Linked DNA regions of Homo sapiens. The protein of the gene in region 1 interacts with the protein of each later gene in a pairwise test. Each region holds a gene or a part of one and is shown in the gene's direction. Other genes may lie near its edges.

The links. Proteins that work in one complex are often made in the same cells at the same time.
Region 2: the proteins of BTAF1 (region 1) and DNAAF6 interact in a two-hybrid assay, tested with the Homo sapiens proteins (one large-scale study listed by BioGRID).

What each region holds. Positions count from the first base shown.
Region 1 is NC_000010.11:91,925,632-91,931,262, forward strand, and holds part of BTAF1 (TATA-binding protein-associated factor 172), read left to right. Parts: intron 1-5,631. UniProt on the Homo sapiens protein: Regulates transcription in association with TATA binding protein (TBP). Removes TBP from the TATA box in an ATP-dependent manner.
Region 2 is NC_000023.11:107,220,111-107,223,610, forward strand, and holds part of DNAAF6 (dynein axonemal assembly factor 6), read left to right. Parts: intron 1-2,634; coding exon 2,635-2,731; intron 2,732-3,500. UniProt on the Homo sapiens protein: Plays a role in cytoplasmic pre-assembly of axonemal dynein.

The sequences.
Region 1 (5,631 bases):
CTCCCAAGTAGCTGGGACCACAGGCACCCGCCACCACACCTGGCTAGTTTTTTGTATTTTTAGTAGAGACGGGTTTCACCGTGTTAGCCAGGATGGTCTCGATCTCCTTACCTCGTGATCCGCCGGCCTTGGCCTCCCAAAGTGCTGGGATTACAGGCGTGAGCCACCGCGCCCAGCCAACACTAATCTCTTTACGGAATTTTAGGACAGTTAATATTTCTCAATGACTGAGTGGGTTTTGAAGGTACTGTCTTTTGTTCTGGATGTTGTGTTTCAAAGAGTAGCACTCTTTTTCTGTGGATTTTTTTCTCGTTCACTTTTTTAAAAGCCTGTCATGTTTTTATGGAAGAGCTATTTCTGTGCTTAGTTTCCTTGGGCTCAGTAGTAAGCCCAAGGAAAACATTTTGAGACACTTGTGTGTTTTGGGGATAGTGTCAATTCTTGACTTTTTCACCTGTGGATTTCTTTGAATGGCAAATTTTAGTTTCAAGCTGGCCTTCTCCATGCACGAAGCACAGTTCTGTGCTAACTAAACTTCCTTTCTCTCCTGTTGGTGCAGACTCATTTTAATACTATTTTACGTAAAATAGGTGGAAAATAGCCCAGGAGATAAAAATCATATGCTAAAATCAAATCTAAAATATTTTTTGCACTGTTTATTTCATATGCATAACTGAAGAGAAACTGTAATATTTTTAGGACATTTCCACCAGAATTTCCAACAGATGGGAAATAGTAAGTTAGTACCATTATTCCCTCAATTGTCTGGTCAAGAAATTTGAGAATGTTCTTTGACTTCCCTTTTCCTCCCACACCCCATGTCCAGCCAGTTACCAAATCCAATCCTGTATATTCTGCCTTTCTAATCTTTCTCCAGCTGATCATTTTTCTTTCTATACCAGTTACCACAATCCTAGAACATGCCACCATCTCTAGTCCAAGACACCTTTAGAGAGACGCTTCCCTTTTGTCACTGTAAAGCTACATCCAATCTTTTGAAAATACACACTCAACCCTAGGAAAGGAAGTACTCATCTCCTTGAACATTGTATCACCTGATAAGTCTCATAGTAAGTTTATGTATCAATGTATTTGGTATTTGGACATGTTTAGTACAAGACAGGAGCCTCTCTCCTTTTCCTGCCTTCCATGGCATCTCATTTCAATCTGTTCTTCGCTTCAGTCATATTATTTACTGATTTGAAGATTTGAACATGAACATGGTAATCTTTCTAATTAATACCTTTAGTTGTTTCCTATTGCCTTAGGATAAAGTCCACATTCTCAAACAAACATATCTTACCAAGTCCTTTGTGATCTGGTTCCTGTGTCATCTTTTTAGATTCATCTTGTGTCAACTTCTCTGTACTTCCCCTTCACCTTCTTCTCTCTTCTATCCTCCACCCTCCCCAGAATTCATTTTGTTACCCCCTACTGTTTATCTTTGGAACACTTCTTAGCCCCATCTCAGGTATGGCTAGTTCTGACCTTAGTGTGTTTTTTTGTTTGATTTTTTTTTTTTTTGAGACAGAGTTTTGCTCTTGTTGCCCACGCTGGAGTGCAATGGTGCGTTCTTGACTCACCATAACCTCCACCTCCCGGGTTCAAACGATTCTCCTGCCTCAGCCTCCCGAGTAGCTGGGATTACAGGCATGCACCACCACACCCGGCTAATTTTGTATTTTTAGTAGAGATGGGGTTTCTCCATGTTGGTCAGGCTGGCCTCGAACTCCTGACTTCAGGCGATCCACCTGCCTCAATTTTTTGATCTAAGCTTATATATTACCTTGTTCAGGACATTTTCTCTGGTTTTACTTCATCTGAGCTATTTGCACCAATACATATTCCTATCAGTCATAATATTTATATTTTGTAATTGGTTAATTGTTCTCTTACTTGCTGGATTAACATAAACTCTGAGAGAAGGAAATGTGTCTTTGATTTTTCCATGCTCAGAATGCCTGGCTCCTAGTGGGTGTTCAGTACATTTAAAAAAAAAATGAATGAATGATTTTGCTTCTTGCTTTGGTACCTTTTGAGTTGCCATATGAGTTGCCTCATAAAGCAAAATAATGGTATTCAAAGATATAACAATTATTATTTAAATTATTCACAAGAAACACTGAAAGCCTGTAACATATACTAATTTGTTTTTTGCTGAGGTTGACTTTGTGGAAGCAAGTCAAGTAACTAGTGAATGACTAGCTGACTTTCCAGCATCCGCATCTTAGGGACAACATTGTTCTCTACTCCTACATTTGTAGGAGTATGATTTTACCGTAATTTGTGCATAGTAGACTATTTCCAGTGTTTTTCAGTGAGTACTTTTGAGTTTAACTGCCTTTTTTCTTTTTTTTTTTTTTTTTTTGCAGTAAGGAAAACTTTCACTATAGCTTTTTAATATTGGCCATTTTCTAATTTTAACAATCATCGGAATATTTTTTTCTTTTTAAAGCTATCTCCTATAGGAAGGCAATTAGAATAATTTTTGAAGTTTATAATATAGTAAATTCTGTGATAGCATGGCCATTTATAATGCAAAATTGATATGATGTATTTTATGTGGTCAAATTTTTTAGACCCTGCTTAATAGGCTTGGTTTTACTGTACTTTCAGTTGTAAGAATGTGGCAGATTATGAAATGCATGGCCAACTCTTGATCTGTAGCTGAATTACATCTTGCAAAAATAACTTTGTTACTCTCTAAAATTGTAAATACAATCATAGCATTTGAAGTTCTCTGTCAAATCCAGTGAAATATCACTGGAAAATGATATGACTCTTTTAAACCCTTAGTAAAAGACCCAAAATCCAAATGTAGGAGTAGAGAACAATGTTGTCCTTAAGATGCGGATGCCGGAAAGTCAGCTAGTCATTCACTAGCTACTTGACTTGCTTCCACAAAGTCAACCTCAGCAAAAAACAAATTAGTGTATGTTACAGGCTTTCAGTGTTTCTTGTGAATAATTTAAATAATAAGTGTTATATTTTTGAACACCATTATTTTGCTTTATGGGGCTTTTTCTCATTATCATGTGTTACTTAGTTGGGATTTTGCCACCAACGGTAAAAGCAACCTTTGCGATCGCAGCACTGCACTCCAGCCTGGGCAACAGAGCAAGAATCCATCCCCCCCCCCCCCGCCCCCCAAAAAAAGCAACCTGAGATGGATTTCTTTGGCATTTTTGTTGTTTGTTTGTTTGTTTGTTTTTGGAGGCAGAGTCTCACTCTGTCCTCCAAGCTGGAAAGCTGGAGTGCAGTGGCACAATCACGGCCTCAAGTGATCCTCCCACCTCAGCCTCCCCAGTTGCTAGGACCACAGATGCATACCACCATGCCTGGCTAATTTTTTTTGTATATTTTGTAGAAGTGGGGTTTCATCATGTTGCCCAGGCTGGTTGCAAACTCCTGGGCTCCAGTGATCCACGTGGCTTTGCCCCTAAAGTGCTGGGATTACTGGTGTGAGCCACTGCGCCTGGTTTAGGTTTATTCATTGGTGGGGAATCTGTAGCTGTGTTGGGAACCATGACTTAATACAATTTTTTAAACAGCTTGTTTTTGCTACCTTTGCCTGTTTATGCCACAATTAATGGAACTGATCATTGTATATTGGCTAGTTAATAGGAACATAGTTTTTCCTTAATCAGCTAGAGAAAGTTTCAGAAATATATAGTTTTCCCTCAGCGATCTGTGCTGTAAAGGTCATGTCTAAAATGTCTAGACAGTACTTATAATATGACTGTTTTAAAAGCCATACCTTAGATTTCTCACATATCTTTGCATTTGAAAATGTTACAGTGTTCAGAAAGGGTTCAGAAAAAACAAAAACACATCCTCTTGTGGAAGAAACAAATTGCTACATATAGCAGACCTTTGCTCAATTTTGTTAATTTTCTCTTTGCACTGTTGATACTTCAGAGCAACATTGTTTCAACAGGCCTATTCTGTCAAATAAAAGGAAGTTTCTTGATGTAGGGGACGTTCAGTGGGTCCTGGACAGGAAAATGTTAATGTAGAAAAAACTACCTTAATTACCAATAAAGGACAACACAGGTTTTCCAGGCCTATTCCTCCCTGTTAATTTATTTTTAATAATTTTTTTTTAATAGAGATGAGGTCTCTCTGTGTTGGCCAGGGTGGTCTTAAACTCTTGCCTCAAGCATTCCTCCCGCATTGGCCTCCCAAATGCTGGGATTACAAGCATGAGCCACCTCACCTGGCCCTTATTGTTAATTTCAATCCATTATAAGATGACAGAAGGAACTATTGTAAATTATAATTCATCAAATATCTCATACTTTAAAAATTTAGAGATAAACTAGAAAAAGTAGAAGAGGCATTAATCAAAGCTTTTCCATTTCAATCCCAATGGTAAATTCCTCCTTATTTCTTTGGCGTATTTCTCAAGGTACTAGTTTGAATTATTATTTTAAAAATTTTTTAATTGTGACACACATAAAAATAGACTGTTCTAACCATTTAAAAATACACTTTAAAATGTATTATGAATTTTACATATTAATACATAATATGTATTAATAAGAAGTTTTAAAACCACCCATACTGCTGCTAAAGAACCTAGATTAGTATGTACTATGTTTTGTCATTAAGATAAAGTCATGCAAGAGGCTATAGGTTGTTCGATCAGGGATGGAGGGTAGAAAAAAATGTCTTGAAGGAAATAGCATAGCTTGGTTGTACATTTTCACCATTCTTCATTTAACCAATATTTACTGAGTGCTTTCTATGTTATAGGTGCTAGAGGTATAGCAGAGAAAAAAACTGTACTCTCCATTCTCATGGAGTTTATGGTCCAGGGTAGAGTGGGGTAACTTATCTAGCAAGCACCTGCCCTTACACCTGGCTTTGGTATGGTTTCACACCTTCATATTGATTCTTAGTGTTCTGTGTGATATCTTTATGTTTAAAACAACATAACATTAACATAGTTTCAAATTACCCACAACATGACCTAGAAAGTATATGTTTAAAAACACTAGAGAATTTGTTGGAAGTTGTTTCTTTTGACCTTAATGATAATATGTGCACTGTACTAAGTTCCACGTATTAAGTACACACTGTACACTATACTAAGTAATGGTCATTATCTTTCCTTACTTCCTGAGTAACACAGAAAAGTAAACATTCAAATCATCTATATTTAAAATTTTACTGTACTTTTGCCACGTGTAAAAAATGTATAACTAAATGGCTACTCTTGACTGGTCATGCTTTTTTAGTTAAGGCCACAAAGCTGTCTTTTTGAGGTATTCTGTCAGTTGACCTTTCCTAATTTATCAGAGAGGTTAAATATATTTTGAAAATATCAGTGAGGCTTTTTGCCCCTCCCCTCCCGAGATGTTTTAGAGTGGAAATACAGTATGTATTTGTTTATTAACTATGACGTAGTAATCTAGGACATGTTTTATTGTTTAAAATGCATGACATTTCTTTCTGTTTATTTTTATGGCTTTACTGTTATGAATTAACATAATGCAAACATCTGGAGAGGAGAGGGGTTAGATTGCAACTGCTAGCATAACCTCTACTACTATGTACTCTTTCCTTTTTCTAGGCAGTCTTTAGAACAGTTGCCTGAAATCACAGGTTACATGAATCATATCTTGTTTA
Region 2 (3,500 bases), on another chromosome or scaffold:
TATAAAACAAGCAAATAAACAAAAACTCCATGCTTCTGCCTTCTACATAAGTTCTGAAAACAGAAGCAGTGGGAGACTGCAGACAATTAACTAGAAAGAAGTATCCAGCTTTCAAATAAACAATGTCAAGACCATAAACCTCATAAAAAATCAAAGGAGATTTTAAAACATTTCTTAGAGAACGAAGAGAGTAAATTTGAAGTTATGTTTATATAGTGTCCACGTATCATATGAAAAGTAATAATTAAGTCACTTATTTGTCATATTGTCTAACAAATGTCAAATATCCATATGCAGCAAACTTCAAATTTGAGTAATTTTTCCCTTTTCATCCTGATGTTTGATGTTAGGTAGATAGAACATCCATGAAAGCTTTAAATGAATAATAACTTCAGGTTATTATGAGGAAAATTGCTTTATAAGATTTTAAAAATCTTCATCTTCTACCTTATGAAAATACATTTCAACATTTCTCAGTGGATGCAGAGGAAAATAGGTAAAGAACATGAACAGGCAGTTCAAAAAAGAAGAATCACAAGTGGCCAAGTAAAAGAATAACAAGGAGCTGAGCTAAGGCACTGGCCTTGGGGAGAAGTATGAGGGTCTTTATTTGAGTGAGTTTTGGATGAAGAGTTGGTATTTGGTTAGATAAAATGGATGAGAGGAGAGCGTCAAAGATGATGCTGAAGTTATTAGCTTGGGTGACTGAGGAAATGATAATGCCATTAACTTTGATAGGAATTATAGGTTAAGAAGAAGCAGTGAGTTTGTTTTTGTTTTCTTTCTTTCTCCCTTTCTTTCTTTCTTTCTTTCTTTCTTTCTTTCTTTCTTTCTTTCTTTCTTTCTTTTTCTTTCTTTCTTTCTTTCTTCCTTTTTTCTGAGACAGAGTCTTGCTCTGTCGCTCAGGCTGGAGTGCAGTGGTGTGATCTCGGCTCACTGCAACCTCTGCCTTCCGGGTTCAAGCGATTCTCCTGCCTCAGCCTCACAAGTAGCTGAGACTACAGGTGCATGCCACCAGGCCTGGCTAATGTTTTTTGTGTTTTTTGTAGAGACGAGGTTTCACCAAGTTGGCCAGGCTGGTCCTGAACTCCTGGCCTCAAGCAGTCCACCTGCCTCAGCCTCCCAAAGTGCTGGGATTACAGGCCTGAGCCACAGTGCCCAACCAAATTTGTTTTTTTTCTTCGCCAACCACCGCCCCCCCGGCCCCGCCCATTGTTCACTGCAGCCTCAACCTCCCGGGCTCAAGCAATTCTCCCACCTTACTCTCCCAAGTAGCTGGGACTACAGGTGCACACTTTATTTTTGTGAAGACTGCGTCTAACCGTGCTGCCCAGGCTGGTCTCAAACTCCTGGACTCAAGCAATCTTCCTGCCTCAGCCTCCCTAAGCACTAGATTACAGTTGAGAGCCACCATGACTAGCTGGTTTTTGATATGTACACTTTGAGTTGTCTTTGGGACATCCAGGCAAACCTTTGTAGTAGACAGTTGGAAAATTGCGTCTGGAGCTCAGGATAAGAGCAGGAGCTTGAGCAAATCCATTAGGAGCAATGAACATATAGATCAATCCTCTGTTTGTTTTAACCTGGCTTCACCTTCATAAATAATTGGTAGATGTTATAGCCTATTAAGAGAAAAGTGCCCCATAGCAAATAGCTGCTTATTGTTAGCCATGTTCAAACTCAGAGAAATCCCTTTTTTATTTTTGGGCATTCCTATTGGCAAATGGTCAGAAGTTCAATCAAGTCCTTTAGTCTTACTATCCAGAGATCTACAATTTCTTCATTAAGGTAGCATTAAGCATAATAATAATAATAATAATAATAATAATAATAATTTGTAAATATTTGTTTCATTCTATCTGAAGAGATGGGGTACCTTGTGGTGGGTGCTTCTATAAACCATTGTATTCCTGGAGGCCCAAATTTGGAGGGAGGAATGATTTGTGAATTGTCATGTGTGGGGTGAAATATCAGGAAAACCTTTCATTACACTCAGAATTCTGTAAGACTAGATTCTAAGCACTATGGTGTAGCTGTGCTGACTACATTACCAGTGTTTCTATTGTAGAATTTTAGCCGTGGAGATCATTCAGTTCAAACTCACCCCTCCCTCCCATAAATCATACAAATGTAGAAACTGAGACCCCATGAGTTTGTGACTTGACCAAGGTCCACAGTTAATGACAGAAACAGTACTAAACCTGAATTTTCTCCTCTGCTCTGTGGTTTAAACTTGGCAGAGGAAGGTTTCTATCAATCCCTAGGTTATGGACTCAGTATTTTTCTGAGCTATTGTTTTTCAGGAACAGACTTTCCTTTTTTTTCTTCTGCTTTTAATCTTATTAGAATCTTATTACAAGTTCCCTCAATCTATTTTATTTGTCTAGCTCTGAAACAGTTAAAGCTTTATTTTAGAAAATAATAACAATCCTGCCTTTCAGTGTTTATTTTGACCACATTTCTAGACTTCTTTTCCTTTATGTTCTATTATATGCCTGAAGACCTGCAAGCACTTTATTTGTTTAGTCCTTTTATTTTACCTAATAGCATATCCTCATAAGTTACTAGTTTTCTTTTCTGTGACAGGAAATTGCTCTTTCATCTGAGTCCCTATAATCATTGATTTTTTTTCAGGTATGAGATTATATTCAGACAGCAGGTGGGAACTGAAGATATATTTTTAGGGTTGTCAAAAAAGGACTCCTCAACAGGTTGTTGCAGTGAACTAGTGGTAAGCCTCTCCTCCCCTTCTTCATTTTCTATACAACCATTGTAGCTAAATTGACTGACTATTATTTACATAATATTGTAGGCAAGGTTGTAAACTCTTTAAAAATCGTGGTTGCTATGTTTCACGTACTAGGGTAACAATGGGATAGACAGTTTAAAATTGTTAACTTGTACAAAATAAACTAAGTTTACACATTTGGATGAGATTTACAAATAAACATAATGGAATCATATGACACAATACACAATTTCTATTTTTATCCCTATTAAAACTTCCCAATTGGATTGGACTGGATTTTCTTCCATCCTAGTTCCGTCCCATGCATGCCAACTGATTGGTTATTAACTTATGATGAATTGACAGGCAATCAGAATGAAGTATCTCCTTCCCCGCATCTGTCTTATCTCTTATTTCTGTATTTCTCGTAATGACTCAGCTTACAATGTGGGACTTAAAAAGGGATTTTCTTAATTTTGGGATCTGACTTCTGATTAAAAACACTAAGAAAGACATCTAAAATGTTACTTTGCTTTCTTATCTGAATGACGCTACCGAATGTTGGAGAGCATCCTTTACCAGGTCACTGTTTCTGTATAACAGTTGTGGCAATACCAACAATATCAATGATACCACCTTACTTTTGCTTATTTCATCCTGATAATGACCTTGTTGAAAAATCTGGGCCTAACCCAGAGTGTGGAATTTGATTCATTTTAGCAACATTAACAAGTAATTCTTGTGTTAAAATTTTATTTTTTGAGATCAGGAA